Regions from separate parts of the Homo sapiens genome. Here regions 2, 3, 4 and 5 are each linked to region 1. Evidence: fine-mapped expression QTL. A gene starts in region 1. Each other region holds a variant in brackets. All regions are shown on one strand. Distances are between the middles of the regions. Region 1 holds the start of LINC00092 (long intergenic non-protein coding RNA 92). Region 2 has its middle 130 kb from the start of ERCC6L2. Region 3 has its middle 92 kb from the start of HSD17B3-AS1. Region 4 has its middle 120 kb from the start of ERCC6L2. Region 5 overlaps LOC158434 (a long non-coding RNA gene).

Region 1 (6,223 bases):
GCTGGTGACACAGGGTGTGGGTGGTGTCCCTTGAGCTTCGACACCACGCCACACCTGAAACCAGCCTGACATCCATGATTTTGCTTTTTTGCTTAAACCAGTCTGCGTCATTTTCAACAAAAGAGTTCTACTAGATATGACAAATTTCTCTAGAAGACCTAAGAAGTGAAAGACTTGAAGCTATTCCAGTGGTTCAGGAACTAGGACACTGGTAGGAAACTGGAAAGAAGGCATCAGAGTTAAGGAAATATTTATGAGGTCAACTCTGGAAGTCTTGGTTACTGAGTGAATACAGTGGCTGAGAGGAATGGAAGCATCCAACCAAATAAAAAAAGATGGTGCTGAGATTTGGGTTATGAGGTCAATGACTGAAGCAATGCGATTAACTGAGTTAGGAGTCTCAAATATAGGATGAGTGCAGAGTTGAGGATGAAGAATTCTGCTTTGGACACAATGAGTGTGAGGTGCCCAAGGATAACCCAACGGGAAGCAGTCACACCAAAGCAACAGGGTGTGCACCTGAAACTCAGAAGGGTGATTGGGCTATGGTGAAGATTCCTGATCACCCATAAATGAATTCATTAAAAGCATGAGAGTGAGTGGAGGGGCCCCTAGAATATGGTGGGTGCATGAGACTAACCCTAGATTGGGGATAGCTCCCTGGGAAATCCAAGGGACAAGGTGAGGAGGAGGAGGCGGAGCCCACCAAGGAAACTAGAAAGAGACCGCTGGAGAGGTCCGAGGACAGCAAGGAGCACAGCCTTCAAGTCTGGGAGCCAACTATCCAAGAAGAGAGTGGTTTGCTATGGATGCCGTGGGCCACCACGTCCCATCTAGGAAAGCAAGTTGAGGTCTCTCTTGAATACATTGGGATTGATTACCCAGACTTTAAAGAATCTATGTCCCCTACTTCCCTTCATTCACTCTGCTCTTTACCTTCTCCTCTTCCCTGGTCACCAGCACCTCTGCTAAAGGGTGGAGAAAGGAACTTCTGATCAGTTACAGAAAAGCTTTGGGGTTACGTGGTGCAAGCTGCTCTGCCTCTGTTTGTGAAGAAATTAGACTATGGCCAGCCATGTGAGTGGCATCACTTTGGTTTCTGGAGCAATAGTTAGTAGCAACTTTTAGAGGTGGTCATTTCGGTTCCCTTCTGGAAAGTGATTCGTGTTTAAGAAAAATAGATGCAACGTTGCTAAGTACACCTAACATTTAAACAGTCTCCAGCAGATAAATGCTGATACTGACACTTCTCACCAGAAAAAGAGAAATACCCATCATGAGGAAGAGAAATGACTTTTGTTCAGTTATGCTCCCGGGTCCCCTTTCACTGGAGGGATATCTCAGCTTTCTGAGCCCCTGGTTACTGCAATCCTCGGTTCCAGAACCCAGCAATTCCTATCATCACAATTGTTTCAAGTCTTATCCAAGCCCTGTATATTTCAGATCATCCTTAATTTCTTGTTCTGTACCCAGAGGAGATCAGGAAAACCTTTAAGTCTCTATGTGAGGCAAATACATCCTCCTCACTGCCCCAGCCCCATGTGATTGATGAAGCAACTGAGGAAGAGAAGTAGGGTGCTTCTGGCACTGGAGGAGCGCAGTGCTGAGAAACTCCGGGCTCCATTCGGAAATAGCACTGATTTCTTAGTGTACTTTTTTTTGGTGTTAATATAGAAAACATCAAAAACACAGTTAAAAGAATGAAGCATGTCTACATACGTGTGGCCAGAAAGACTGACCAGAAGCTGGTAGCAGTGAGGGATGACAGTGCTTGCCCCTGGGTTGAATAGTGGAAGAGTTAGGGGGGAAACAGTCTGCTCTTTGAGACCCTTTCAATTTCATGTGATGGATTTACAGAGACAGATGAATTAAACATTATATAAAAAAGGAATAAAACCACTGGTAGGATCTGTATTCCAGGAAGAAAAAAGCATATTACATAATAGGTCAATGCACAGAAATAAAAAAAGGAATTTAACTAGAGCCTATGCTAATCATAAATCCCTTCCCTGTTCCAGAGTCCTGTTGTCTCTGGGGTCTTGGCCTGTCTTATCTAGGCCATGGAGTGGTGGGGGTGGGATGCTGCTAGTTCCTAGGCAGGAAATAGTGGCCAGTTACCCTTGTGGTGTCATTTCTGGGTCCTGGAAAGGAGACCACTGCTGACCCCTGACTCACCAACCAACAATTATTGATGGAAATCCCACCGGCCTCCCCGGACAAAGGCAGCCCAGACCTGGACTCATTCACATGTAAAGGAAGTGGCCAGAAGTGGCTGCTGTTGGCAGGGGTGAGGGACGGGAGAGCGCGCTAAGTGGCCTGTGTCTGTGGGGGAGGGAGAGGGTGGAGCAGCACAAGCCGGCCTGAGGTTAGGAGCCTGCGGTATCTCCAGGAAAGCAGAGGCGGCTGTGGGGGGCGCCGGGGCTGAAGAGCCAAGTGTGGAGACTGCTCCATCTTGCCCATCTCCAGAAACTCAGACCACCCATCCATTAAAGGCAGGTGGATGAGCAAGGGGGCCTCGCAGGCATTCCAGATCACACTGAACCTGTGCCCCACTGCCTGACCCATTCAGCATCCCTATTAACAGACACTCGCTGCCGTCTGGCCCGGACCCGGCTGGCGCTGCGGGTCCTTCCACCCCAGTTAGGAAGGGTCATGGCTCCCGCGGAAGCCCCTGCCAGGGTGAATAAACTCGGCGTGGGGCTGACGGGCTCTGAATTACTCCGTTGCTTACAAGCCGAGTGCCCCTCTGTGCCTCAGTTTCTCCCTCTATAAAACAATACGAATACCGGCCCAGAAGCGTTGTTGGGCAGATTAAACGAGAAAATCCACTGGAAGTGTTTAACAAACGACACACAATACGGGCTTCATACCTGCCAGCCGATGTCCCCTGCAGCCTTTATTCCCTACCCAATTCCCCTTAGCCTGCTATGTGGAGATACAGGAGGCTTGCACCCGCCGCGGTCCCGGTGTATTTTAACGGGCTCCCGGGGAAGCGGTGTGGAAAATGGATTAGGGAGGGAGGAGGCCAGAGCCTCGGAACCCGGGGAGAGGTCTGCAGGCATCCAGTTGGGAGCTGGAAGGGCGGGACAGGGCCCTTGGCAGGGGGATCCAGGAAATATTTTGGAGAAATTCTCTCTAGGACTTGGTAACAGGTTGAGAGCGGCCACTTGGCCGGGGGCGCCGGCTTCGGAGGCGGGAGGGAGGTGGAGGAAGGGAAGGCAGCTGCAGGGCCGACCTGCGGGGTGGGCGTGAGGCCGGGGGATTGGGGCCGCAGGGGTTCGGCCTGGAGGAGCGGCGTGGGGGCGCCGGGGCCCTGATTCCATCCTGGGCGGGTCGGCCCCGCAGCCGCTGCGCTCGGAACCCCCTAGGCGCCCCGCAGTACCCGGCGTCCTTCCTGCCTCCTCCTCGCCCCTGTCCTCCGTCCGAGCCCCAGTCCCGCCGACCCTGCCGGCGCCTCCGCCCTCCCGCCCTCCCGCCCTCGGTTTCCCACGACCTCGGCGCGACGCGCGCGGGATCCAGTGGAGACTGCTTTCCCATAGGCCGCCATCCAGGGCGGGGAAGGGAGCGGACCCTCCCGGCTCCAGGTGCCTGGGCCCCCGGCGGCCTGCGGAGGCCTCGCCCCACGCCACCCGCCCACTGGCCTCGTCTTCGCGCGGGGGTGAGAGCAAAGGAGGCACTCGGCCCATCGCCAGCCCGGGTCCCCTTCCTGCCCGTCGCTATCCGAGAATTTGCCCCGTGTCCCCCAGGCCGCGGGGGTCCGGAGAACCGAGGGGCGGACCCCGCAGAGGGCTGCGCCGCCCTCCCTTCTCTCCCCGCGGGAAGCAGCCCCCAGGACCGCCCCTCGCTCCCTGCCCGGGAGGGACTGGGCTTCCCCGAGGTGTGCGGCTCCTGGAGAACTCGCTTTCCCGTTTCCAGCCGGCCAAGCCATCAGTTAATCGCTTGCTTTCTCTTTTCTTTACAGAGAAAAGCAGCCTGATTCGGAGGAACGGGTTGCTTGGGGCGGCTCCCAGCTCGAGTTGTGGGCCCCGCCGCGGGTGCCCTTCGGAAACGCGCTGACACCAGGCGAAGCCGCCTCTGCCCGGACGCAGCCCGACACTTGGCCCGCGGGGTTCCCCGGGACGCCTGAGAGTAATGGGCGCGAGGGGGAAAGCCGAACGGCCTCCCTGTGCCCGGCGCAGGCGGTGCCCCCTAGCTGGGTTCGCCGCGGCGGCGCTGCGAGCCCCCGACACTGAGGACTTTTGGTCCAACAGTCCGACGGGGCCCGGTGCGCCGTTCCCTCCGCCCTCTCCCCGCTCCCCGGCCCGCGCGTCTTGGAGGGTGGGTGAATTGTCGGAAGCACTCTACGCCTGGCCAACCCAAACCAGGAACCTCCGCACCAAACAGCCCACGTTGCTGCTGCTCTGGGGTTTTAACGGCCAAGGGAGACTGGAGAAGGGGTGTTCTGCCTTCCCATTCTCTTAGGCCCGTCCACTCCCCATCCCCACAGTTTGGAAGTGGCCTTTTCTGAGGACTCCAGCGCAAAGCATGTTTCTCCTTTTGAGCTGCGGAAGCCTTGCTTGTTCCCGCCATTGGGAGGGCATTCCATCATCTGCAGCTGCCTTCCTCGGTGGGCCTTGTCCCTTAGCGTCCACCTAGGGGACATTCTAAGCTTCTTGAGACCTGCTTGTCCACCCCAACATGTCTCAGCATATGGCTGTGCCCTAAGGGGTCTTTGAGGGCATTTTAGGAGGTGAGCGGCGCCCCTACCTGGGCTCCGCGGGGCCGATTCGGTTTGCCCTTTGCTGGCATGTCAGTGAATTAACTGCTGTCCTTGGGATGACCTGCCCTATGATTTGGCCTCTGGAGCATCCCGGGTGTGTATTTCAGAACTCCTCCCATCTTATCCACCTGCTGAAGGCCTGGCCCCCTGATATGGTTTGGCTCTGTTTCCCCACCCAAATCTCACCTTGAATTTTAATAATCCCCACGTGTCATGGGCGGGACCAGGTGGAGGTAATTGAATCATGGAGGTGGTTTCCTGAACGCTGCTCTCGTGACAGTGAGTTCACAAGATTTTTTTTTTTAACGGAGTATCACTCTGTCACTCAGGCTGGAGTGCAGTGGCGCGATCTTGGTTCACTGCAACCTCTGCCTCCCGGGTTCAAGAGATTCTCCTGCCTCAGCCTCCCGAGTAGCTGGGATTACAGGTGCGCGCCATCACGCCCGGCTAATGTGTATTTTTAGTAGAGAAAGGGTTTCACCATGTTGGTTAGGCTGGTCTGGAACTCCTGACCTTGTGATCTGCCTGCCTCGGCCTCCCAAAGTGCTGGGATTACACGCGTGAGCCACTGTGCCCAGCCGATCTGATGCTTTTATAAAGGGCTTTCCCCGTCCCCCTTCCTCTCTCTCACCACCCTGTGAGAAAGGTGCCTTTCTTCCCCCTTCACGTGAACTGCCTCCATGATTGTAAGCTTCCTGAGGCCTCCCCAGCTATAAGGAACTGTGAGCCAATTAAACTGCTTTATAAATTAACCCAGGTATTTCTCGGGTATTTCTTCATAGCAGCGTGAGAATGGACTGATACACCCCCAATGTGGAGTAGGGGAAGCTGAGGGAGTTAGGAGGTCCCAGCAAGGTGAAGGTGTGATGGGGTCTTGGGACAGTGAGAGTGCTGCCTCAGGCAACAGTGGGCAGGTCATTGAGGCTCCATTGAGCTTGGTGAGCAGGAAGCTGAGAGAGGGAGCTGTCGATTCAGGAGTCAGGGGTGACATGGAAGGAACCTAGGGCTTTGCCAGGCACAGGTGAAGGAAGGCCACTTAGGTACTGGCAGTGGGAAGAGAGGGCAGGGAGTGGTGGACGGAGAGGAAGAGAAAGCTGAACACTGGAGCACAATGCGGGTGCTGGGAGGCAAGCAGAGGGGGCTGGGGGCTTCTCATATGGTGCATCCTGGCATTTATATTTTGAAAAATAATTGTTTTGTTCCCATTAGTGCTTTTATAATAGTTTTAGGAAAGAAGAGAAAATATGAATTAGCTATTATGAGGCTTCTTTTGAAGTTTCTTTCAGTTCAGAAACATATCCCACTTTACAAAAAAATTAAGAAAATTCAAAGTTAAAAAATGTAGGGAGGCCAATAATTTTAGTTGCCAGACATTTTAGTCTGACAAGACAACTCATTGGAGTTTCCTTAGAGACGTATTAGAAATTCAGAGCTGCACACGCATTTTTCCCCCTGCCAGATAAA
Region 2 (6,223 bases), 280 kb after region 1:
CTATCGCAGAAGGATGGGAAGGACTCACTCATCCATCCACTCATTCATTCATTTGACAGTTCTTCAGGGGGTGCTTAAAGACACTGTTCTGGGATTTGGGGGCATAAAATCTCTTGCCTTATGGAACTTCCATTCTAATTTGGGGTGTGAGGACTCTGGCAATAAACAGGTAAAACAGACAGTAGGGTCGGAGGTGTTAAGTGCTGTGGAGACCAGCAGAGCAGGGAAGTGGCAAACAGGAGCCCTGGAGGACTCTTCTTGCTAAGCTGAGGGAGGTGAGCAGCGATGGGAAGGTTGGTTATGGAGGAATGCCATTGTCCTGCAGGTGTTAGGAGGACTGGACTGTCTCTAGGTATTAGACCGGCGGATGCAGGCAAAATACAGTCTGTGGGCCAAATCTGGCCCTCAGCCTGATTTTGTGCAGCCTGAACAAAAGAGTGGGTTTTGGAGAGAAAAGTGAGTTTTGGAGTTTGTTTTTTTGAGACAGGGTCTCACTCTGTTGCCCAGGCTGGAGTACAGTGGCACAATCTCCTCCCCGGGTTTAGGTGATCCTCCCACCTTAGCGTCCCCCGAGTAGCTGGGGCTACAGGCGTGCACCACCACACTTGGCTAGTTTTTTTGTATTTTTTGTAGAGATGGGTCTCCCTATGTTGCCCAGGCTGTTCTCGAACTCCTAGATTCAAGCAGTCCACCCACCTCAGCCTCTCAAAGTGCTGGGATTATAGGAGTGAGCCCCCTCACCCAGCCAAAAGTGTTTCTTACATTTTTAAATAGTTGATAAGAAGTCAAAACAGAGTAATACTTTGTGGTACATGAAAACGACGTGAAATTCAAACTTCAATGTCCATTTGCTTATTTATTTTCTGTGGCTGTCTATGTGCTGTGAGGGCAAAGCTGGGTAACTGCAACAGAAACCATAAGGCTAGCAAAGCCTGAAATACATACTATTATGTTGGTGCGAAAATAATTGCACCAACCTGAAATATCTGGCTCTTTACAGAGGAAGTTTACCAACCACTGATTAGACCATAGAGGGATGAGGGTGGGAGCAGGGAGATCAACAGGGGGCTCTTGCAATAGTCCAGGTGAGAGGATCCTGGCTTGGACCAAAGAATAGAAGAGGAGGCCATGAAAAGTGGTTGTATTTTGGATATACAGATGGTTCCCGACTAACGATGGCTTGATTTATGATTTTTTTTAACTTTACAATGGTGCAAAACAGATACACATTCAGTTGAAATCACAGTACACATTTTGAATTCTGATCTTTTCCTGGACTAGCGATATGCAGTATGACACTCGAGACGCTGGGTGCAGCAGTGGGCCTCAGCTCCCAGTCGGCCACGCAACCACGATCACCATCACTTTATAACCAAGTGTTGAATATCTCATGTAATTTACTAAAGCAGAAAAATCATTTCAACTGAAAGATATGACTCCCGTTCAGTAAAATATTTCATGAATGAAGTAAAGTCTACGCTTAATGAAAAGATATTACCCCTCACAGTTTGTACTCTGTCTCGCTATTTTACATTTTAAACCTGACCAAGACTAGAGATCTTCCTGAAGAAGTCCATGCCGGCCAAGCCATGGACAAGTGTGGATGCCCCAGGGCCTGCTACCAGGTATTGTTGAGGCTCATCAGAAGACAGACATGGATGACCCTGTCACAGTAGCATCCCCATCATCCAATTAACTGTAGTTCAATGTGTCCCATATCCTTCAGGCCCTTTGTGATTTCAGCTGTGGATGTCAGGCCCTATACAGCCCTTTTGTTTTCCACCTCCAGTACAGTACTTAACAAATTGCATGAGACAGTCGACACTTTATTGTAAAAAAAAAAAAAAACAATAAAGGCTTTGTGTTAGATGACTCTGCCCAACTGCAGGCTAACCTAAGTGTTCTGAGCATGTTTAAGGCAGGCCAGGCTAAGCTCTGATGTTTGGTAGGTTAGGTATAATACATAATTTTTTGACTTAATGATGTTTTCAATTTATGATGGGATTGCTGGGACATAATCCCATTGTAAATTGGGGAGCATCTGTATTTTGATGGCAGAGACATCAGGATTCACTGATAAGTCCAGTAAAATATGTGAGAGCCAGAAAAGGGTCACGCAGAAGGCCAAGGGTGTAGCTTGTACAGTTGGATGCTGGGGGTTGCTGTTTACTCAGATGGGGGAAGCTCTAGGAGGAGCAGGATTTTTTCGGGGGGGTTGGGGCAGAGGATCAAGAGTTCAGTGAGATCATATCATAGTCCTGTTGTAGTAGTGAGGGTTGGGTATTCTTTTTCCTATTCACCTAATTCAGCTCTGGTAGCTGCCTGGACCTATAATAAATGGCTAGGTATACTCGCTGACATGGAACCTAATGTCAGTGGTATGTTAGACAGACCAAGAGACTCAGACTAACCTAAGGGACATCACATGGGTTGCAATGGACAATGGTGTCAATAAAATTAAAAACAACAACTATTAAGCAACATTGCAGTAGGTTGGGTTCCCCCAGAAGCTGATTTTGAGACACAGGTTCATGTGCAAGAAGCTCATTTGTGAACTAATCTCAGGAACCACTAGCAGGAGAGGGGGTAAGTGAAGACTATGGGGAGAGGGCCGCCTACAGTCAACAGATCGCTGTTCAGGATATGGGGTTCAATCCTGCTGGGGACCTCTAGGAGACCGTACCAAATGTGCCTCTGAGTTGTCCTACCCAAGGTGAGGCTGTTGGGGTATTTATCCTCCAATTCCTCTTTATTATTGGCTGAGGAGATGATAAATGCCTGGCACTTCCACTTCCCAAGTGTGACCTCGGCATGTTTTTGTAGGTAGAGAAAGCTCTCCAGTAAAGTTGCAGGTGCCACTGGTGTCATTGAGAAGGGCAAGTGCCAGGGAGTTCATATTCCCAGTGAGACAGCAAAAGCATCTGATGGAACATGATAATCATGGAAGTGCAGACACCTGCCACCAGCACTCGCTTGTAATGCCCAGAGCCCTGGGGAAAGCTCGACTAATCCCCAGGCCTGTTTCAAACTACAGCCAAGGAGCTTTCTCAAGACCAGAGAAAGTTTTTGAAGGCCCAAGGCATGGTTTCCATATTTGGCCTCATTAAGTCAATTCAAGACCTTTTTATAACCAGAGCGAAAATGTTTTCATGTGATGTATTTCCTAAATTGCTATAAATATTTTTCACGTATGTAGCTTCAATATCGATTTTA[T/C]TAGAAACAACATGGATTATCTTTTCATTGCTAATGAAAAGAGAAAACATCACTTCATTTACTGAGAACAGTGGCAAAATATTCTAAGATATTGATCAAAAGTTGGGCTGACTACCACTTGTGTTAGCCAGTAATAGAAGCTTCAAAAGGCAGCCCAGGGATAGGCTGAGTTCCATGAAATGAGAAGAGGATTTAGTAGGCAAAAAGTACCTGGATATGTAGATGCAGGTTCCATGGATAGCAAGGCTGACTTTCAGCTTCAACTTACAGGTAACCGAAAGACTGAATAGATCCCATTCCCTGATACTTCCTGATCTCTTTAGAAATGGTTCCAGTCCACCTACAATGAGATATAAGGGAAATAACAGTCAGGCTGTCCACCTAGAGGGGTGAACAAATAAATGCAAACCTCAGAATCACGTTAGTTATTGAGAAACACTCACACTCACACACCAGATGCTCTGAAGGCCAAATAAGTTGCTGTCTACCAAGTTCATGGGCTTAGCGCTAACTACAAGTTGCTTAGGTATTCTGTTAAATCACCTGGATCGTTTAAGGATTTTCATATTTTCGTAACCGTTAAGAGTGTATACAATGTACAGTGATTTAAAGAAAGCAGAACTGGCCAGGCATGGTGGCTCATGCCTGTAATCCCAGCACTTTGGGAGGCCGAGGCGGAAGGATCACCTGAGGTCAGGAGTTGAAGACCAGCCTGGCCAACATGGCAAAACCCCGTCTCTACTAAAAAATACAAAAATTAGCCAGACGTGGTGGCAGGTGCCTGTAATCCCAGCTACTCAGGAGGCTGAGGCACTTGAGTCACTTGAACCTGGGAGGCAGAAGTTACACTGAGCCAAGATCACACCACTGCACTCCAGCCTGGGTGACAGAGACAGACTGCCTCAGAAAAAACAAAAACAACAACAACAAAAAAGAAAATAGAACTCCCAGGTCCATGAAATCATGACGATTGTCACTAAAAATATATCCAATGTATGGAGGCAGGAAGATTTTGTCATCACACATCACAGAGGCCATAAGCCACTGACCTCGTTGCCTCCCTCTTCTGGCAGAGTATGCCTGGCCTTCAAAGGTTGAACACTTATTTTTCAATATTTATTAGCTTTTTAAATTTGTCTTTGAATTGCCCATTTACAGTTTTGCCCGTTTTCCTGTTAAAGCGTTTGTCTTTTTCATATTGATTTGTAAGAGCTGTTTAAATAATTGAGATTGAACATTTATCTGTTGCAACTATTGCAAATATTCCTTTAGTTTTTCATTTCTAAAACTTTATGTGGCATTTTATGACATGTAGAATTGTATACTTTTATGAAGTTATAGCCAAGGTCTTTATGATTTTTTTTCTTGACTTTTATGTGACTAGATGAATATCCACTGATATTTTTCTAATTCATTTAGGTTTTTATTTTAAGTAAAACTCTTCAGACCATCTGGGATGTATTTAGGCAGGGGGAAGGAAATGTAATATTTTTTTTCCCAAATTGTTAACCAGTAGTGTCAGCCATCAATTACTGAATAATCCTTCCTTACTGATTTGTTAACAAGGTGGAGAATTTTATTCCCCAAAATGCTCCATGAGTTTTCTGTTGAAGTGAGAAACAGATTTGCTTCCTAGCGGCTCTCATGTGCTTTTGCCCAGAGGGTGCTAGGGATGCTCGGGAGATGAGGTGGTTCTAGATGCTCTGGCCATCCTAGAGAGGTCTGGCATAGGGGCAAATGGAAACAGAAGTCCTAGGGGACAATTCTGCTGTCCACTGTGGCACAGAGGAGAAAGAAGCAGAGCATTTGAAGGAGAAAGTCAGTGGGGATGCCATGAGAAAGCTGCGTGGGCGAGAGAAAGGAGAGGTAGCTGGTAGCTACTGTGAGTACTGAAGTTTGGGGAACAGAAATATTTCCAAAGAAGATCTTCAGGAAGTTTTCTAAAGATGAATTTCTTTCAGAAAATCTGTAGCAAAATTTCTATCATTCTTGAAAGTGTCTTAAATTGAATGTGTTTTCTTGGAATGAGACTGCAAAAACTGGACTACATGCGACATATATCTGGGTTCACCATATATCACGAGGCCATTTCAAAGACATTTGGAATGCTGCCTCATTTGTTAAGAAACTTTATATATTCTTTACTTAAGATGTATTGCTAAATTCTTAAATATCATAGCTTCTTTCTGAGATTTAGATTATATTATGTTCTTGTACTAGGTCCTACTTACTTAAATGCTCATCCTTTTAACTTTCTCTGTTACCGCCCATAAGGGATCTTCATCTATCACAAATGATACATCTAGATTATAGTAGAATCTAACCCCAGCCAATGAAAAACATAGCTGGAAATCCATACCTTATTTGCCAGGTAAGAGCTGAGGGGAACTCTTTCCTTGATCTGAGTGGAGCACAATCGATGCTGCTGGTCCTAGGAAACTCCTGGCTGCCAGAACCAGTGGGCTGTACAGACAGCATGTCTGGCTGGGGCAGGATGAAGGGCGACGTGAGCAGGGGCAGAATATGCGGAGCAAACACTGCGACCACAGGATGGCTGAGGCAATGCAGATAAGAGGTCTCAGGGATAGCATCCTGGGACTGAAACTTGGGAAGGAAGAGGAAAAAGTTGTATGTTTCTATTACTATCACTACAGAGTATAAGGAATGGCCCTAAGAATGTGATAAACTTAGAAGAAATTCCGATCTTTACTATGATCTGGAGTTATTCCTTTTATTTTTATATTATGTTATTCTTTTATTTGAGGTTCTTTTCTTTTGCACAGGACTTTTATTATGCAATTTTTAAACACATTGAGACTTAAAGTCAGAATTTTTAAATCTGAGTTTAAAAGAAAGTATGATGGTAGTAAATGTGGGGTAAAGCATTTCAATAAAATTCCAACAAGGATTCTTTTGTGCTGATGAATATCAAATGCGCTGTCATTTTTATTGCCCATGTGCTATTTTACTGTATAGATATTCAATGAATGACCGAATCTGTCCTCTGATT
Region 3 (6,223 bases), 130 kb before region 1:
ATGGGACATGACCCACGCACCCAGGACAAAAGTAAGGCTGGCCGTTCTGTTTCAGCACAATAACGTGTGTTAATTCAGGATTGATGCCTGGCTGCCCCCAGTCTGGCAGTGGTGTTTGCCTCCTGCCTTTGTTAGGAGAAGCGAAATAAGCTAAGGCTCCTGGAGCCAGCCCTTTCCTGCTCCTCTGCCCCACCCCCCAGACACGCACGCACAGAGCTCTCTTAGCATCAGAGGCCCAGAGGAAGGCTAGGGTCATCAACACCTGTCATTTCCAGGGCCAAAAATGTCATCAGGCGCTGCCTAGCTGGGCTGTCAACAATGGCGTGATTTGGCCAATTCTGGAAGAGGAAATGGACTATTCATGAGCAGTGCTTTCAGTGATGGGTAGGTGCACTGTGTACGTTGGTGTGTGCATACACATCTGTGCACATGCATATGCACATACATGCACCTGCGCACCCAGCCCACACTCCCTGCCGCCTCAAAAACCTCTTGTGGGTTGCATTTTCTCCAGTAACAGAAGTGATGACTCTGATGGGAAATGCACAATTAAGCTCTAAAGTGATTTCCCTAGAAATCAGTAAAAGGGTTTACTGGAACTTAAGAAAAAAAAAAGATGAAAAGTCTGTTTTTCCTTAAGGATTTGCTCCAAAGAAAGCAGCTCTCACCATATGTTCTCCCAGAGGGAGGAAGGAGGGGACAGAATGTACAAGCTGAATGCTGACTAAATGTTGCTGGCCTGGATTCTGGGGGTGGCTAGTCACCCCATCCTGGAAAGGCTGGCAGAACCGTCAAGTTGAAGGCAGTTTAGGAAAGTCCTGGGCAGACTCGGGGCCTCATGGATGTGGAGCAGCCTGTAGCTTAATCTATGTTCAATAAATGCAATGTTTTTCTCAAGGCAGGTGAGGAGGGGCTCAGGCTGTAATAAGTGTTTTAGTATTCTGGAGCAGAGTTTTATACATTTTTAAAGGAAGTCAGCCTCAGAACGCTGATCTCAACATTGTGACTAGCCTGTTACCCTGGGACTGACCCTGAGTAGAGAGACTGAAATCACAGAATTAGGACTCAAAGTAACGATTAGAGTTCCTTGGTTCTACCCTTGTCCTCCAGGTAGTATCATCACTAGCCTGGTTTGACAGAGACCTACCTGTCCTTCTCTCAAAGTTCTCCAGAGAATAAAATTTTATAGGCTACATTGGTAATGAGTGGGAAGGTTGGAAAGTTGTGGGGGTAGGAAAAGAAACAGAATAAATAAGTCAAATATACAGTATGTTAGATGGTGAAAAGTGCTATTATGAGTAACACTAATCTATAACTTGCATTTGTTTTTATTTTGGATCAGGGTCTCACTGTGTTGCCCAGGCTGGAGCACAGTGGCACAACTATAGCTCACTCCAGCCCTGGACTCTTGGGCTCAAGGATCCTCCTGCCTCAGCCTCCAGAGTAGCTAGGACTACAGGCATGTACCACCATGCCTGGCTAATTTTTTATTCTTAAATTTTTGTAAAGATGGGGCCTCTCTATGTTCCCCAGGTTTGTCTTGAACTTCTGGGCTCTCAAGGAATCCTCCTGCCTTGCTTGGCCCCCTAAAGTGCTGTGATCTTAGGGGTGAGCCATTGAGCCTGTCCATAACTTGCACTTGAATGAGGTTTCAGAATTTTCTTTTTCTTAGCCGGGCGCGGTGGCTCAAGCCTGTAATCCCAGCACTTTGGGAGGCCGAGGCGGTCGGATCACGAGGTCAGGAGATTGAGACCATCCTGGCTAACACGGTGAAACCCCGTCACTACTAAAAATACAAAAAAAAATTAGCCAGGCACGGTGGCAGGCGCCTGTAGTCCCAGCTATTCGGGAGGCTGAGGCAGGAGAATGGCGTGAACCCGGGAGGCGGAGCTTGCAGTGAGCCGAGATCGTGCCACTGCACTCTAGCCTGGGTGACAGAGCGAGACTCCGTCTCAAAAAAAAAATTTTTTTCTTTTGCTTTTCTTTCTTTCTTTCTTTCTTTCTTTCTTTCTTTCTTTCTTTCTTTCTTTCTTTTTTTTTTTGAGACGGAGTCTCCCTCTGTCGCCAGGCTGGAGTACAGTGGCGTGATCTCGGCTCACTGCTACCTCAGACACCTGGGTTTGAGCGATGTTCCTGCCTCAGCCTCCTGAGTAGCTGGGACTACAGGTGTGTGCCACCACACCCAGCTAATTTTTGTATTTTTTAGTAGAGGCATGGTTTCACCATGTTGGCCAGGATGGTCTCGATTTCTTGACCTCGTGATCCACCTGCCTCGGCCTCCCAAAGTGCTGTGATCGCAGGTGTGACCCACTGCGCGCAGCCGAGGTTTCATAATTTTCATGGGCCCGGACACATCTATTCTAGGTCATCCTCACAAGAATAACTGTCCTGGAATGTTAAGGACATTTTCTGAGGTCATCTGATTAAAAGTGCCTTTTCTGGCATTAGAATGCAGGTCATCAGGTGTGGAGTGTCCTTTTCCTCTCTATCTAACCTAAGAAATTAGTATATAAA[G/A]TTAATCTCTGTCTTGTTGTATTACTCACTGGAGATTGGACAAGGCCTGCTCACTTTCTTATCCCTGGAAGATGGGAATTCTCGTGTAGAGCTGGTGAGGCAGGCTGTCCTTCAGTCTGTAGACCAGAGCTTTTCAATGACAGTGACTCGAATTGCAAGGTTCTGGTGCATGCCAAAGATCCCCACAGAAGGATCGACATCACAGGGACACTAACCCAAGGGGCCGAGTCTGTTCTGGAGTCAGGAAGAGTCCCACCGGGCAAGAAGAAATGGTTTCACGCTTTCAAACGTTTTCAAGTGGGAACAGGAACATATAGCTTGGGCCAGGCTCTGCCACGACACGTGGCTGTGGCACCTCCCTTGGTGGTGGCTGGGAACCTTGGTAAGGGAGACACGGCAAAGCTAAAGCCAAAGGAGAGCCTGAGAACCAGCAGCTTGAGTGTTTGCCTTGGAAATGCGCTGTGAGGGCCGGGCGCAGTGGCTCACGCCTGTAATCCCAGCCCTTTGGGAGGCCAAGGCGGTGGATCACGAGGTCAGGAGATCGAGACCCTCCTGGCTAACACGGTGAAACCCGTCTCTACTAAAAAAAATACAAAAAATTAGCTGGGCATGGTGGCGGGCACCTGTAGTCCCAGCTACTCGGGAGGCTGGGGCAGGAGAATGGCATGAACCCAGGAGGCGGAGCTTGCAGTGAGCCGAAATCGCGCCACTGCACGCCAGCCTGGGTGACAGAGCGAGACCCTGTCACAAAAAAAAAAAAAAAAAAATGTGCTGTGATTCCTCGGACTAAGAATTCGAATTCCTCCTTTATTCCCTGACCACCCCACCTGTTCTTCTCTGCCCTACAACAGTGGGGAGGAGGGGGGAAAATCAGGTGTTCTGTGACAGTTATAAAAATAATTAATTAGGCCGGGTGCGGTGGCTCAGGCCTGTAATCTCAGCACTTTGGGAGGCCGAGGCAGGTGGATCATGAGGTCAGGAGTTCAAGACCAGCCTGGCAAAGACGGTGAAACCCCTTCTCTACTAAAAATACAAAAAGTAACAGGGTGCGGTGGTAGGCGCCTGTAATCCCAGCTACTTGGGAGGCTGAGGCAGGAGAATCACTTGAACCCAGGGGGTGGAGGTTGCAGTGAGTCAAGATGGTGCCACTGCACTCCAGCCTGGGAGACAGAGTGAGACTCCGTCTCAAAAAAAAAAAAATTAATTAGTTTCAGCAGCTGTTTTGGAACCCAGGTTGGAGAGAAGCATGGGCTTTTCATTATGGCCAAGGTAGGTGAAAGGCCACAGGAATAGCCAGGCACTGAGCCTCGATATGAGCACACCACGTGGCATGGGAAATAAGAGAGTGGAAGTTTAGCATCAGGCAGAGCGGGATGTGGATTCCAGTGCTGCCACTCTCTAGCCTTGGACCTCGGGCCTGTGCGGCACAGAGTTGTTGCCTACCCGGCAAGACTGTGTCAAAGAACAAATGGAGAAGCATGGTATCCATGACCCCCAGCGGCAGCTCTGTGAGTGTCACAGATCAGTCACATCAGGGGTATGGTCACAGCTTGCAAATTTGACTCTCCATAGTGGGCAAGGGAAGAGCTAGGGAAGAGACAAAGTCAAAAACGTGGGCAGTTCCCACGTGTTTACCTGTCCCGTTCAATCAAGGCAACTTGAAAGTCTCTGTGTTTATTCATCTTGCACTCAACAAACTTGTATGTGGGGACTGAGCAGCTGCTGTTCCCCAAAGAATCTTGGTTCCCACCCCCTCATAGTGTGAGGGTCTCACCATTCCAGGTGTGCTTCTAAACTTCAAAGCTCCTGAGAATCTCAGTTCCCTCCCACTCATAGTGTGAGAGTCTCACCATGCCAAGTGTTATTCTAAACTTTAAAGCCCCTGAGAATCTCAATTCCCACCCCTCATAGTGTGAGAGTTTCACCATGCCAAGTGTGATTCTAAAGTTTTGTTTGTTTTGTTTTGTTTTTGAGACAGAGTCTTGCTCTGTCACCAGGCTGGAGTGCAATGACACCATCTTGGCTCACTGCAACCTCCGCCTCCAGGTTCAAGCGAGTAGCTGGGACTATAGGCGCAAGCCACCACGCCTGGCTAATTTTTCGTATTTTAGTAGAGACGGAGTTTCACCATGTTGGCCAGGATGGTCTCGATCTCCTGATCTCGTGATTTGCCTGCCTCGGCCTCCCAAAATGCTGGGATTACAGGCATGAGCCACCGCGCCCGGCGGTGTGGCTCTAAACTTTAAAGCTCCTGAGAATCTCAGTTCCCATCCCTTATAGTGTGAGGGTCTCACCGTGCCAAGTGTCACTCTAAACTTTAAAGTTCGGTATGGTTCATACCTCGTGCCTCTTACCTGCAGCCCAATTACTTCACCAGGGGCTCAACTGAAGAATTAGTGATGAATGGTCATTATGACCCTGTGCAATTTTTGTTATTTATTCACAAACCAAAGAAATGCAAAATGATAAAAAGAAGATACAGTGTTTCCCTATGACATTGGCAGAGACCTTTGAAAAAATACCCAGGGTCTGACAAGAGTGTGGGGAAAAACATTAATTCATTGCTGATTATATAACTAGGATTTTCTGGAAGACACAATAATAGGTATAAAAAACCACAAAAACGTTCAGACCTTTTGATGCCATAATTCTACCACTTAAAACATTTTTCAAGGGGATTATTAAATAGGGTTGCTTTCTAATTAAGAAAGCTCATTGCAAGATACTGTATAAGACCAAAGATTGCAAACAACTTAAATGCTCAGCAATATAGGATTGGCTGATGGAATCATTTGTTCAGCAAATACCACTGAGCACCCTACTGGAGTGCCTGCTGTGCTCTGACCATGCTTTGGGAATAAATATTCTTCTCAGACGTGTGCTCAAAATACACAGTGTGACCCAATGTCGAATGTACAAGTGTGTAAACTGATATTTGACCAAAGACAAATATTGCCAGCTTAGAACTTCTGGGTTTCATGGATACATCTGAAATTTCATTTAAGAATTTTTTTGTTTTGTTTTGTTTTGTTTTTTTAGACAGAGTGTTGCCCTGTTGCCTAGGCTGGAGTGCAGTGGCATGATCTTGGCTCACTGCAGCCCCCGCCTCCCTGGTTCAAGCGAGTCTCCTGCCTCAGCCTCAAGAGTAGCTGGGATTACAGGCGTGCACCACCATGTCCAGCTAATTTTTGTATTTTAGTAGAAATGGGATTTCACCATGTTGGCCAGCCTGGTCTCGAACTCCTGACCTAGTGATCCACCCTGGGCCTCCCAAAGGGTAGGGATTACAGCCTTGAGCCACTGCACCTGGCCTTATTTAAGAATTTAAATCATGTTTCAGTTTTCATTTAAGAACTTTAGTAGTTAAAATTGTATCTGATTTTTTGTTTTTAAATTGATGCATAAGACATGCATATTTTAGGGATACAAGTGGTAATTTTATATATTTGTGTAATTCATACAGATCGAATCAGTGTACTTGGAATATCCATGCCTTAAATATGTATTTTTCCTTGATGCCAGAAACATTTGAATTAGTCTCTTCTAGCTATATGGAAATGTATCTAGATTATTGTGGACTGTAGTCACCCTACTGATCTATCAAACAGCAGGTCTTATTTCCTCTATCAGACCAGAGGTTTGTACCCAGCAGTGACATTTTAAAGCTTAATATTTATAGTGTGATAACAGTGACCTCTCAGCACCGTCA
Region 4 (6,223 bases), 270 kb after region 1:
GAGTAAAGAGGAGAGCAGGAATGGTTGAAGGAAACAGATTATACAATAGAGGATCCCAGCTAAGGACTCCTGGGGAAAGCTGAAAAAAATGCAAGGTCTCTGCCAAAAGGCCCTGTAGGGAAATTCCTTTCAGAACCCAAATTTGGCAAAAACTTCAACGCTGTAAAAATCGCCATAGCTAGGTTTCTGATTGCATTTTCCCCTGAAACTATATGGGATGTAGCTTGGCTCTGGCATGAGTTTAAGAATAGAAGCGGTAAATACTAACTTTAAATTCTGACTTTTAGCTACTTTGAGACCTTGCATAATCTGTGTGTTTTCCTTCCCAAATATGTAAATAATGTTTTTACATGTATAAGGATTAATTTGGCCTGAGAGCTACATCGAAGAGAGGCCCAGAAGTTTTGCTTTCAGAAAATGTGAAAAGTTTTTCCAAACGGTTCTGTTAACAAAAACTTCTAGATAAATACTTCCTAATAAAGACAAGGAGTAAATTTATATTGTCTCTTGTCTTTCAGAAATTCCCTTTGCTTTGCCAAATAAAACACAGTGTAATTTTTTAACTTGATAAAGAATGATGAATTTGATGTCTTGAATTTGCATACTTTTAAGAAAAAGAGGCAAAGATTTTTGTTGTTGTTTTTGTTTTACTTTTTAAAATAGTTGGCTAATAAAATCTGGATATTTGTTTGTAAGAAATTTGGTAGCAGAAAAAAGGATTAATAAAACACACATATCAAAAACCTGACCCAAGACATTGTGTAAGTTCTAGAGAAGCAAAAGTTCAGTATGAAAGAATTCCTGCATTAAAAGGCCAAGAGAGGATGTGAGGGAGAAAGGGAAAGTCATGGCCTTTAGCAACAGCTAGACCTGAATTCAAATCCCAATTCAACCACTTAGAAGCTGTGTGATCTTGGATAAATTTCCTAACTTCTCTGAACCTCAGTTTCTGGACCTGAAAATTGGGCATAACAGCTATCGTAATCCTGCTGTTGCAGGCCTGTGGCTTAACAAGAGCAAGCCTTCGGAAAGTGATAGCTAATGATGTATTTTATGATTGATGCCCGCTCTAATGCTCATCCCATCCTGGGACATTCCTGTTGCCCTTGAAGTGCTAGCAATCTAGTAGGGGCACAGAGAAGCAGAAACACTTTTCAACTCCAGTTCTGCCTTTCCAACTTCTAACTGGGCATTTCTATTGGAATGTTTTGCCCCAAATTCAAGGTGTATGAAACGAAGCCTTCCTTTCATTATTCAGGCCTTGCTAGCTTCTGTGGAAGGTGCTGTGCCTTCCCAGTTGCTCAGGGTTGGGCCTGGTCCTGCTGATTCTCCTCACTGAGTCCCTTGGCTCTTTCTCTAGGATCTCTGCAGTCCCCCAGGACCCCGCTGTGTAGTCCAGCTGCCTCTGAGCTGCCCACCCTTATGCCTGGATCAGCAGCAGTCTCTATCTTGAGCATCTTACCTTTTCACCAGACCCACCTGCCTGGAATCACTGCTTTCCAGTACTTCCTCATAAGACATGACAAGGGAGAGACTGAGCTCCTCACCGAGGACTCAAGCCCCTCACAATCTGATCACAACCTGCCTCCCCAAGGTTAACGTGCACAACTCCTTCCTGTTCCTTTAGGACAGGTAAATGGATTGTCCCTTGGAAAGCCACTGTGAACACCTGCTGCTGAGCACCTGGCCATGCTGTTCACCTGCAGGTTACCATTCAAGGTGGCCTTTCTCAAGTCAAATCTCCTCCTTGAAGCCTTCATGCTCTCTCCAGACCCCCGTCCCTCCCTTGACTAAACCCTGGCACCGTTTATTCCCTGTAGCACTGCTGGCTTTTCCTATGTGGCCTTGACTAGTAGATAATCTTGTCAGAGATAAGGTTTATCTCCGGGGCAAGCATGAATCCCCTGAGGGTGGTTTGTATGCCAAAATTCTGTAGCTTCCAGCAGTGCCTTGAGCCATAAACATCCCTGGTGTCAAATAAGGACGTGGGCAACAGAGAATTTCAGATTCTTGGTGAAGATCACATAACCTAGTAGGAGCGCAGTGAATCTGGAACTGGACTCCTGTAGGCCCCTGCCTGCAGCCAATTCCTACACCCAGACACTGCCTGAAATTAGTGATCCCCGGACCCAGCACTAGACACTCAGAGGCACTAGAAACTGGTTGTACCCAGTTCCAAGCTTTGGCTTCCCTGGGAAGACAAAGGCAGAAATTCCTTCACACTGGGACGCAGGGCCGGACCAGCTGCCCCTGCCCGCTCCGCACTAACCAGGTGAGAGAACCAGTGTGGTGTCACTTTTGTTATTTAAATGTCAAGGTCCTTATCCCCTGTTCCGCACATGATTTTCATTTCCAAATTTCTCCTTTGAGCCTTTTAATCCAATAGCTGCCAACCCAAGGTCATAAGGCAATTCAATCGCCACCACATTGAGTTCCCGACATGCTGCTTCTGCCAGCCCCCGCAATCACAGTTCTGGATCTGCAGTAGCCTCAGGCTGTCAGTTGATGGTTTAAATGTAGCATCCCTATACTCACCTTCTTTTTCACAGGAAAAAACACGTCACATTATAAACTAACAAGTGCAGCACATAAAAGCTCACTTTAAACAGCTCAGAGCCGAACACTCTGTCCATACATTTCCAACAAAACGGAGATTTGAGATTCCAAAGTACATGAAA[T/C]ACTTTAGGGCCTCCTACCTTTAGAATTTTCTTTTGACCCCTAAGCAGAGTTAAGGAGAAAGATCTGATGCCTAGGAAGGCTGAAAATGTCCAAGGCAGCTCTCATTATCTGTGGTCTGGATCAAGACCACAGACACAGCCCTTCAGTAGACACCCCTCCCCACAAACAGCCATTTGGACGTCCTGTAACCTGAAACACATACTGCAAGCAGTTGAGAGCGGGTGCAAATGACAGTCAGCTACACAAATAATTGGCCCCCAAATGTTTATCAGCTCCCTGCCATGGCCACTTCCATTTATAGCTTATAAACAGTTATTAACTGGCTCCTTCCCATCTGATAGCTAGGCCCCAGAACAGGTGGTGAGAGCGGTGGGTGATTCCAGGCCTCCCTGGGAGGTGCTGTGTGTTTGCCTGTGGGTGGTCTTCCTGCCTGAGCCCAGTGCCCACATGAGAAGACATTGCAGAAAGCCTCCAATTTAGGAGATAACAGTCTGTGTTGTCTGTTTGTGTAAAGCACTGTCCAAGTTACAGCTGGCTTTGCTTTCTGGCCAGCAAACATTGCCAAGAAGGGTTGAAAGGTCAGCATAATCAGCCCCCAAACACAATCCCTTCCCCCTTCTGGCCTTTGCAGATGGGCCACAGTGCTCCACGGATTCTTTTGGAGGTTTGATTATAACAAAATGTTGCTCTAGCTGCGGCTTTGCACAAACCCTGCCAGGAGACGGAAGCCAGAGGGATACGCCCAGTGGGAAGGAGGCAGGGTTTCTAGGGCTTTGGTCCTCTGTGATTTTGTTCTGTGCTAAAAACAGCTTTGCAGGTCCCCACAACTTGCTTTTCTCAGAAATAGTTCCCAATGCAATGGACCACAGAGACATCAGACCTTGGTTCCCTTGGCGTTTCTTTAGGAGAGACCGCAGGAGAAAGAGATGTCAGGGCAGTTTCTCCATCTCGCCACTATTGACATTTTGGGCTAGTCTCTCTTGTGGTGGGCTGTACTGTGCGTTTTAGATTTAACATCATCCCGGCCATCACCTACAAGATGCCATTAGCAACCCCCTCTCCAGTTGTGACAGAAATGTCTCCAGATATTGCCTGGGTAGTAAAATCAACCCCAGTTAAGAGCCAGGGTGTTGAGAGTCTATATATACATTAACTAAAAAACAACGTCCTGAAGTATCCGAATAGGACAGTAGAGGTTTGACAACACTAGAACAGTCTAGTAAAGCTACGCAGAATAGACCGGTGGTAAACATTTTTCATCAGCCAATAAAATCCTGATTAATTTATCTCATAGGGTGGGGGGGAAATGGTAATCAATGATCATAAAATTTGAAAAAGATTTTTAAATAATAACTTCACGGTGAAAAATTTTTAAAAGACTATGGTGATGATGCTGTGATTAGCTATAATGCGGCTAGTATTTTTGAGCACTTTCTATGTGAAAGGCACTGTGCTAAAATCTGCATTATTTTCCTTAGTCGCAGCAAATATATAGGAGGTAGGTCCTGATATTATCTCCATTTTACAAATGCAGGGCCTGGGCCTGGCCCAAGACTGTTTCCAAAGCACTCTCCCGAAGGTTCTCTGACTACAAATCATTCCCCACTCCCTGAATCCAAAACTGAGTTGAAAAGATGGTATGTATTTGGATAATTATGGAATGGGTTTTTTAAATCCCAAACTCAAAATAATAATAACGGCTACTATGTAGCCATTGCCTGGGGGCGGCAGGTGCATCCTCCCTTTCAATGCTCGCAGTTGTCCTGGGTGAGGGACTTGCTGGCGGTGGCCCAGCGGCCGAAGCAAGATTTCAGGGCAGGAGCCGCTGCCCCTGCCTCCTCCTGAGCGGAAATTAGCTCCGAGGGTCTCCAGGTGGGACCCAGTCCCGCTCCGCGCTGTTTCTGGCTGCTTCCCTCCTTCTTTCTTCTCCGCCACACCAGAGAGGGGCACGAAGGAGTCACTAGACTTGGCCTGACCCCCCGCGCCTGGCAGTCCCTGCCCCGGGGTGTCTTGCTTGAAGGTCGGGAAGACAGTCCTTGGCAGGGCCTGACCCCCCCACCCGCTGAGGGCCCTCCTTTTGAGGCCTCTATGGCAGCCCCCGCGGGCTGACCTGGCCGCCCCCACTGAGCTCCCTGGGTCGGTCCTGCTGGTCTCCGCCTCGCTGGGCTCCTCCCGGGCAGTCCCCTGCCCCCCCACAGCTCTGCGGGACCTTCTCCCCGGAGGCGCCGCTCTGCCTCCCGGGGCCCCCGCAGGTCGCTCCTGCGCTCCCCTCGCCTGGGTGTGAGGAGGACCCGGCCTGGGGACCTCCTGCGCTGGCGCCACTCTCCCTGCTCGCTCCCAACCCGCGCCGGGAGGCTCCCGTCTGTAAGAGGACGGGACACTGAGAGGGCAGCGGGAGGGGGGGCAGATCGTGCGTGACGTGCCCCACGCATCTGAGAAGGGGGTGATGTCTTTGGCACAGGATGAACAAGTTAGTCGCATTTTTCAATGTTTAATGCGGCCCCTTCCCTGCTACCTGGCTGTGCGAAGGCGCACTGCGCCCTCCCTCCCTCCCTCCCTCCCGGAGCTCAGGCTCCCTCCCTCCCCGCATCCCTCTTCTCCCTCCCTCCTGCAGCTCAGGCCCCATCCCTCCCCTCCCTCCCTCTCGCAGCTCAGGCTCCATCGCTCCCCTCTCTCCCGCAGCTCAGGCTCCCTCCCTCCCTCCCATCCTCCCTCCTGTGGCTCAGGCCCCATCCCTCCCCTCCCTCCCTCCTGCAGCTCAGGCTCCATCCCTCCCCTCCCTCCCTTCCTCCCTCCCTACCTCCCGCAGCTCAGGCTCCATCCCTCCCCTCCTTCCTTCCCTTCCGCAGCTCAGGCTCCATCCCTCTCCTCCCTCCCTCCCTCCCTCATGCAGCTCAGGCTCCATCCCTCCCTCCCATCCTCCCTCTTGCAGCTCAGACTCCATCCCTCCCCTCCCTCCCTCCCTTCCACAGCTCAGGCTCCATCCCTCCCCTCCCTCCCTCCCACAGCTCAGGCCCCATCCCTCCCCTCCCTCCCTCCTGCAGCTCAGGCTCCATCCTTCCCCTCCCTCCCTCCCGCGTTCAGGCTCCATCCCTGCCCTCCCCCTCCATCAGGCAGCTCAGGCTCTGTCCCTGCATCCTCTCTCTCCCACAGCTCAGGCTCTATCCCTCTCCTCCCTCCCCTCCCTCTGCTGCTGAGCATCCCGACTCACAGACACCACTGCAGAGCCCGCACACGCCTTGGTTGTGGACAGAGCACATTTGTACACATTGGTCAGAACTGGTCAGGCTTTTCCACAGCCTGAGGAGGAGAAAGTGCCCATCTGACTGAGGTACTCAAACGTGACCATAGTTACCACCATGAACAACTTTAGAGTCTGTGTTTTCTTCCTTGGACTAAAGACATACAGGTGTTTGAACTACTTTTGGTTGACATGGTCTTAGAGTCTATAACACGTTGGCCAACAAGCCCATGGCACTAGACTCCAGGGCTTCAGGACTGGTCAGCCCCGGATACTGAGGCCCTCCCAAGATTTCCTTCAGGT
Region 5 (6,223 bases), 90 kb before region 1:
CCTTGGGGTTAACGAGGCTGAAAATAAAGACTAAACCAGCAGTAGTCTGGATGAAGGTGAAGGCAGGTGGGGCATCATTCATCAGACCTGGGAAGTGGGGGCGCAGGGCTTATCTGTTTGGGCCTCATCACTGCTCTCCCTATCATCTCCTGTCAGAAATAATTCCCTGACTGGTGTCCCTTCCGTTTCGGGATGAATTGTCCTCCAGCTGCTCCTGATTCCTGCGTTAAAGTCCTGGTGTGATGGCTCACATCTGTCATCCCTGCACTTTGAGAGGTGAGAGGATTGCTTGAGGCCAGGGGTTCAAGACCAGCCTGGGCAACACAGTGAGACCCCATGTCCACAATAAAAGAAATTAGCCAGGCATGGTGGTGGATGCCTGTAGTCCCAGCTACTCAGGAGGCTGAGGCAGGAGGATTGCTCGAGCCCAGGAGTTGGAGGCTACAATGAGCTGTGATTGTGCCACCGCATTCCAGGCTGGGTGACAGAGTGAGACTCTGTCTCAAAACAAAAACAAAAACAAAGACAAAAACAAATCCTAACCCTTTAGTACTTCAGAATAAGACTGTATTTGGAGATAAGGCCTTTAAAGAGGCAATTATGTTAATGAGGTCATTAGGGTGGGTCCTGATCCAATATGATGGATGTCCTTGTAAGAAAAGGGAACTAGGACGCAGACATGTGCAGAGGAAAGACCATGCAAAGACACAGGGAGAAGACGGCCCTCTGCCAGTCAAGGAGACAGGCATCAGAAAAAAATCAATCCTGCCAACACCTTGATCTCGGCAAAGCTCCAGGCATGTGAGAAAATAAGTTCTGCGGCAGCCACCCAGGCTGTGGTAGTTTGTTATGGCAACCATCACCCACTAAGACACCGTCTCCAAGACCCTCCTCTATAGACAGACACCTGATGCCCAGGCCACCCCTCAGATGCCAGGGGAAGCTGGCTGGGAAGGGCATGGGCTTTGGAGCCACCAGCTACACCCTGGAATCTCTGTTCATGGCCTTCTAACTGTGGGACCTTGAGCAAGTTACTCCATCTCTTTAGTCTTGGAGATCCATAAAGCTGGAGGTAATGAACTCTCCCCAGAGCTGTGCAAATTAAATGAACTAACAAGTAAAAAGATAGATTTATTTATTTATTTTAGACAGGGCCTCCCTCTGTCACCCAGGCTGGAGTGAGTGCAGTGTGCGATCACAGCTCACTGCAGCCTCGACTTCCCAGGCTCAACTGATCTCAGCCTCTGAAGGAGCTGGGATTACAGGTGTGTGCCACCATGCCCAGCTAATTTTTTCATCTTTTGTATGTTGCCCAGGCTGATCTCAAACTTCTGGGCTTAAGAGATCCTCCTGCCTTGGCCTCCTGAAGTGCTGGGATTATAAGCATGAGTCACCTCGCCCAGCCATGTAAAAAGATTTAATATGCCTGAGGCCCAAGGACTCTAATACGTTCTCCAATTTTACCTACTCTAGGGGACATTTGCTGTGTTTTGCAGCCACACTGGGCAGCCTGTCTCTTTGGAGGAAATGCCAAGATCTGCGGGGGTCTGGCCCTGTTTCCCACTGTGTGCAGATGAATCTTCTAACCACCTGTCTTCTGGAAGTGGGGACAGGAAGTGGAGCCAGTTCTGCCAGGTCCTCCCATTCAGATGGTGGGCTCCTGAAGAAGTGACATAGAGAACTCATGGAGGTGACAGTGGAGACAGGCTCCCAGCGGAGGGCAGCAAGGACCAATGATGGTGTGAGTGTCCACTGAGAGTGCCATTGGTGGCGTCCCAGGCAGCAGGTTCTGTAGGATGACCTCACTGTCATCTATGCTTGTTTCCCTGCTTGCAGTCAATCTCCTTGTCCTCTGCCTTGTCCTCTTGGGGCCTGTTCTTGGCTGGCAATCATATTGGAAAGTTATCTAACAAATTATTTCACACTAAAGTGAGAAAGATTTAGATAAGTAGTCATTTTCCTAAAGGCACTTGCATTTTAAGAAGGGAAAGGAAACAGGTAAGGCTAAGCATTTCATTTAACTGGCAGTGGAAAACGTAATCATTTTTAAAAATAATTTATAATTTTATAATTTTTAATTTTTTTTTTATAGAGACAAGGTCTCTCTATATTGCCCAGGCTTGTCAACTCCTGGCCTCAAGTGATCCTCCTGCTTTCGCAAATCCCAAAGTGCTGGGATTACAGGTGTGAGCCACCATTGTCCGGCAGGGAAAGTTCATTTTTAAGGCTGACTATGTATGTACCAAGGGCCTATTATTCCCCTGGGATGCTGGTGTTCAAGGCATTGTCTAGTCTGGCATAGGTGAGGCACATTCATTTGAGTGGCCACCTCCCATGTTGCCTACTCGGCTGGCACGGTGGAGAGCTTAGCTGTCTTTTGAGTCTGTGACTTGTTTAGACTTTACTGGTTTAATCAGAAGGCTCTGAATTTCATACTTAAATTCCCATTCAGGTGTCTG[G/A]CTGACCAACATTGGCAGGTAAAGGTAACATTTTGGTCAGATGAGGAAGGGGGTGCCGGGAGGCAACAAAGAGGTATTTTCCCCAGTGTCTTACTCCTTTGTTCAGTTTTGATGACATGTAGCACGACTAAGAAAAGAACTTCTAGGCCAGTCCAGTGGTGCAGGGTGTGGGTAGGGTAGAGAACCGTACAAGATGGAGATCCCAAAGAGAGCCTGTGCCCAAATGCAAATTCCTGGTCAATTATTTCAGCCAGTTCACAGTGACTGCCTGCTTCTCCCTGCGTTATTTTCACTGGGACCTGAATCAACTCTTGATTCTTGAATCTAGAGAAGGGAAAGGAATCCAGGACAGAAGGTGGGCAAAAAAGGCAGGAGCGCGAGGTGGCTGGGAAACGGGCGTTCTCCATTCATTTCTCACTTCCAAGTCTGACCTAAGCAGGTCTAGCAGGAAGGGCAGATTATCACGCGCAGCAAAGAGACAGGACTGAAGTTTGGCAAGTAGCACAATCCCATCCTCAGGCTCTTTATTTATGTCACTGCCATGAAATCCACTTTGTGAAACAGGGGGCCTTGTCTGTCTGCTCAAGACATGTCTGGGAGAAGAGGTGGACACCTTCTCCACATCGAGAAGTCAGGGTGCCCTGAGCTTCTGCTATGGCGCTTACCCAGAACCTGGGGAGAGAGGCTGCTGCCAAAGAAACAAATACGTGGGTGTCTTTCCTGGTTCCCAAAGGGCTGACCTTAGAGTCACCCGATTGTGCTGCTTACATCCCTCCAGGGCTTTGAAACACATGCTTAGCTCTTGTGGCTAAGAAATGGACACTGCTGAAACGGACACTAAGCTCTTGTGGGGAAGCTCTTGTGGTGCCTAACTGCATCAGAAGGCGATTCTGGCTTTGAGGCTGGGAAGCTTTCGGAGGTGCTTTTCAAATGCAAGCTTATGTCACCTTTAGGAACATTTTTCAATTCGCTTTCTGCTGGCCAGGCTCGCAGCTCCACGCTGTCGCCTGCTCCTGCCTCTCTGTGGCTCCCAATGTCCAGCAGGCACAGACTTGACGGTTGTCTCTGTGCAGAATTCCCCTCACTTTCTGCTTCCACAGGCTGACTTCGTTCGTGCTGTTCCTGCTCCCTGCTCCGGTTACAGCCACAGGCTCCTCCACATTCTTCTGTCTGCCTCCAGTTTCTTCTTCTCACTTTAATCAGTCTTGTCCACCATTGCCAGATAATTAAAAAACAAAACAAAACAAAAACTAAGCTTCCATATTATCTACAAAATAGTCAAGGTCTTTCTTCCATGTTATCTACAAAATATTCCAGGTTGTTCTTAGCCTTTTAGGAATCAGAGGAGAATTTCAACCCATTATGGGTTTAGGCCTCCAAGACTCTAACAGAAGAGGGACACGGTGGAAGAATAATGGGAAGTGGAAATCTTACCCCTGGCAGGGTGTCCCGGTTCTGGATGCATGCCCAAGGAAACACAAACGATAATTTTTACAAATCAAAGCCATGCAAGTCCCATGGAGACATATTAGAACATGTTTTCTTAGATTTGTAAGTCATAGGACCAAAATTGGTGGCTGAATGGCACTGAGGGAGAGTCTGATAGGTTACTAACTAAGGGGTGCTCTATGTTGCCACAGACTAGGTGGAAAAGGAAGGGGTAGGGAAAGCCAGGGTGGTGATCCTGAGAAAGAAGTTGGATGAGAAGACTCTGCGCCTTCTAGCCATGCTCAAATGCTAGTGATAAACACACACAGACAACATACAGTGAAGTACACACACACAGAGTCTCACACACCTTGCACGGTGTGTGAGCACCTTGCATGCTCTTGGGCATCTACAGCACTCATTTCACTGTCAGGTTTTGCCTTTTCTTTGGACGTCGCTCTTGGGCGTCTAGAGCACTCATTTCACTGTCAGGTTTTGCCTTTTCTTTGGATGTCACTCTTGGGCATCTAGAGCACTCATTTTACTGTCAGGTTTTGCCTTTTCTTTGGACGTCATTTTTCCTTGTGTGCATGTTGCCCATTCCCCTAAGAAGTACAGGAGAGGTGGGCACGGTTGCTCACACCTGTAATCCCAGCACTTTGGGAAGCCGAGGCAGGAGGATCACTTGAGGCCAGGAGTTGGAGAACAGGCTGGGCAACATGACGAGACCCTGTCTCTGCAAAAAAAATCTTTAAAAAATTATCCAGGTGTGGTGGCATGTGCCTGTGGTCCCAGCTACTAAGGAGGCTGAGGCGGGAGGATCACTTGAGCCTGGGAAGTTGAAGATGCAGTCAGCTGTGATTGCATCACTGTACTCTTGCCTGGGCAATGGAGTGAAGCCCTGTCTCCAAAAACAACAAACAAACAAAAAAACCAAAAAACAAAATAACAAAAGAGAAGTACAGCAGATATGGAGCAGAAGTGCGAATGGTCTTCTAAATAGTCAATCTTTGGGGGCATCCTCCCCTCCCTTCTCCCCTCCCCCCCTTTTTTTCTTATACTTCTTCTTGCAGTCCAACATCCTTAGCAGTGCAAAATGAGTCAGAGTTTCCTCAGACCTTTGAGTGCTCAGCATTATATAATCATCACTTCCAAGTAGCATTCGGAGATGTCTTTAAGCTGCAGCAGCTATTGTTAGTTGTTTAAGACACTCCATCACTGCCTTTGATCGGAAACTTTCTCATCACCATTATGTGCATCGGTGCAGGCACCTTAAATTTCACTGGGTCTTGGGATTAGTCATATTATAGAGAGACACAGAGATGTGAGAAATAAATTGAAAAAAGGTCTGTAGCAACAGATTTTACACCATAAAAGAGTAAATTATTAGGTGTTAGGAAAAATATAAATGTTGCAAACGGTGTGTTTTATATACTGTTGCCAAGAATAAAAATATGCCAAATATGGGGGAAAAAGGTGTTGGTTAATCTGACTTCTGGCTGGCCCCCACCCTGCAGCTCTTAGCACTGCTGGGCTGTTTTATAGGGCAGTAACCCAGTCACCAAAGCAAAGAGAATTCGAATAAGGGACTTGGAAGATATGCCAACTTGGGGACTAATTATTGCCTTGTTAAACAGTGAGATGGGGTTATTGTACATTTTTGTGTATGGTAGTTAAAATGTATTTTAAAAAAGAAGTTTTTAGAAACCAAGAATTCCCCAAATTCAAGAAGTAACTGATAAAGTAGTTTATGGAAATGTAATCTCCCCATAGAACCAGATTGTGCAACAAAAAAGGAGAAGGAACGATGTTAAATGGGAAACAGAATGGGGGTGACCCTTCCAGATGGCTTTCTGGAAACTCCTTTCAAGCCAGCCACCCACCAGACGATGCTACCAAATGGCCCCTGTATTCGTTTTTTAGGGCTGCCATAACAAAGTGTCACAAGCTGGGTGGCTTACAACAATAAAAATCTACCATTTTACAGTTCTGGAGGCCACAAGTGTGAAATCAAGATGTCAGCAGTGCCATACTCTCTCTGAAGTCTGTTGGAGAGAACTCTTCTTTGTCTCTCCCAGTTTCTGGTGGTTTCCAGCAATCCGTGGCTTCCTTGGCTTGTCGTCGCATCATTCCAGTCTCAGTCATCATGCGGCCTCCTCACTATGTGTCTGTCTGTGTTTACATTTTCCTCTTCTCATAAGGGCAGCAGTAAATGGATTAGGCATGCTAGTATATCTTCTTCGCTTGATGGCATCTGCAGACTCTGTTTCCAAATAAGGCCTTGTTCATGGGTACTGGGGTTAGGACTTCAACACCTCATTTCTAGTCTCCTATAT

The links. PIP is the estimated chance that this variant, and not a neighbour inherited with it, causes the effect. A credible set is the group of variants that fine-mapping cannot tell apart.
Region 2: its variant is the best candidate, but not a certain one, in a credible set for the expression of LINC00092 in whole blood (TOPMed, PIP 0.59).
Region 3: its variant is the best candidate, but not a certain one, in a credible set for the expression of LINC00092 in subcutaneous fat (GTEx, PIP 0.85).
Region 4: its variant is the best candidate, but not a certain one, in a credible set for the expression of LINC00092 in whole blood (TOPMed, PIP 0.64).
Region 5: its variant is the best candidate, but not a certain one, in a credible set for the expression of LINC00092 in whole blood (INTERVAL, PIP 0.89).

The regions. Positions count from the first base shown.
Region 1 is chr9:96,019,020-96,025,242 of GRCh38, reverse strand. LINC00092 (long intergenic non-protein coding RNA 92) reads left to right here and starts at 3,432. Exons shown (of 2, transcript NR_024129.2): 1 at 3,432-3,658; 2 at 3,962-5,511. LOC105376159 (a long non-coding RNA gene) reads left to right here. Exons shown (of 2, transcript NR_188619.1): 2 at 1-1,983. It also overlaps a transcript of ERCC6L2 not described here. RefSeq lists enhancers at 2,010-2,510, 3,943-3,992 and a silencer at 4,203-4,252.
Region 2 is chr9:95,742,549-95,748,771 of GRCh38, reverse strand. No RefSeq gene overlaps it. Among named protein-coding and RNA genes, the nearest start is that of ERCC6L2, 130 kb to the left of the region's middle. The variant T/C (reference allele first, on the strand shown) is at 3,214.
Region 3 is chr9:96,150,854-96,157,076 of GRCh38, reverse strand. No RefSeq gene overlaps it. Among named protein-coding and RNA genes, the nearest start is that of HSD17B3-AS1, 92 kb to the left of the region's middle. The variant G/A (reference allele first, on the strand shown) is at 2,515.
Region 4 is chr9:95,751,003-95,757,225 of GRCh38, reverse strand. No RefSeq gene overlaps it. Among named protein-coding and RNA genes, the nearest start is that of ERCC6L2, 120 kb to the left of the region's middle. The variant T/C (reference allele first, on the strand shown) is at 2,679.
Region 5 is chr9:96,108,688-96,114,910 of GRCh38, reverse strand. LOC158434 (a long non-coding RNA gene) reads left to right here. Exons shown (of 3, transcript NR_132344.1): 2 at 157-276; 3 at 5,875-6,223. Among named protein-coding and RNA genes, the nearest start is that of LINC00092, 90 kb to the right of the region's middle. The variant G/A (reference allele first, on the strand shown) is at 2,460.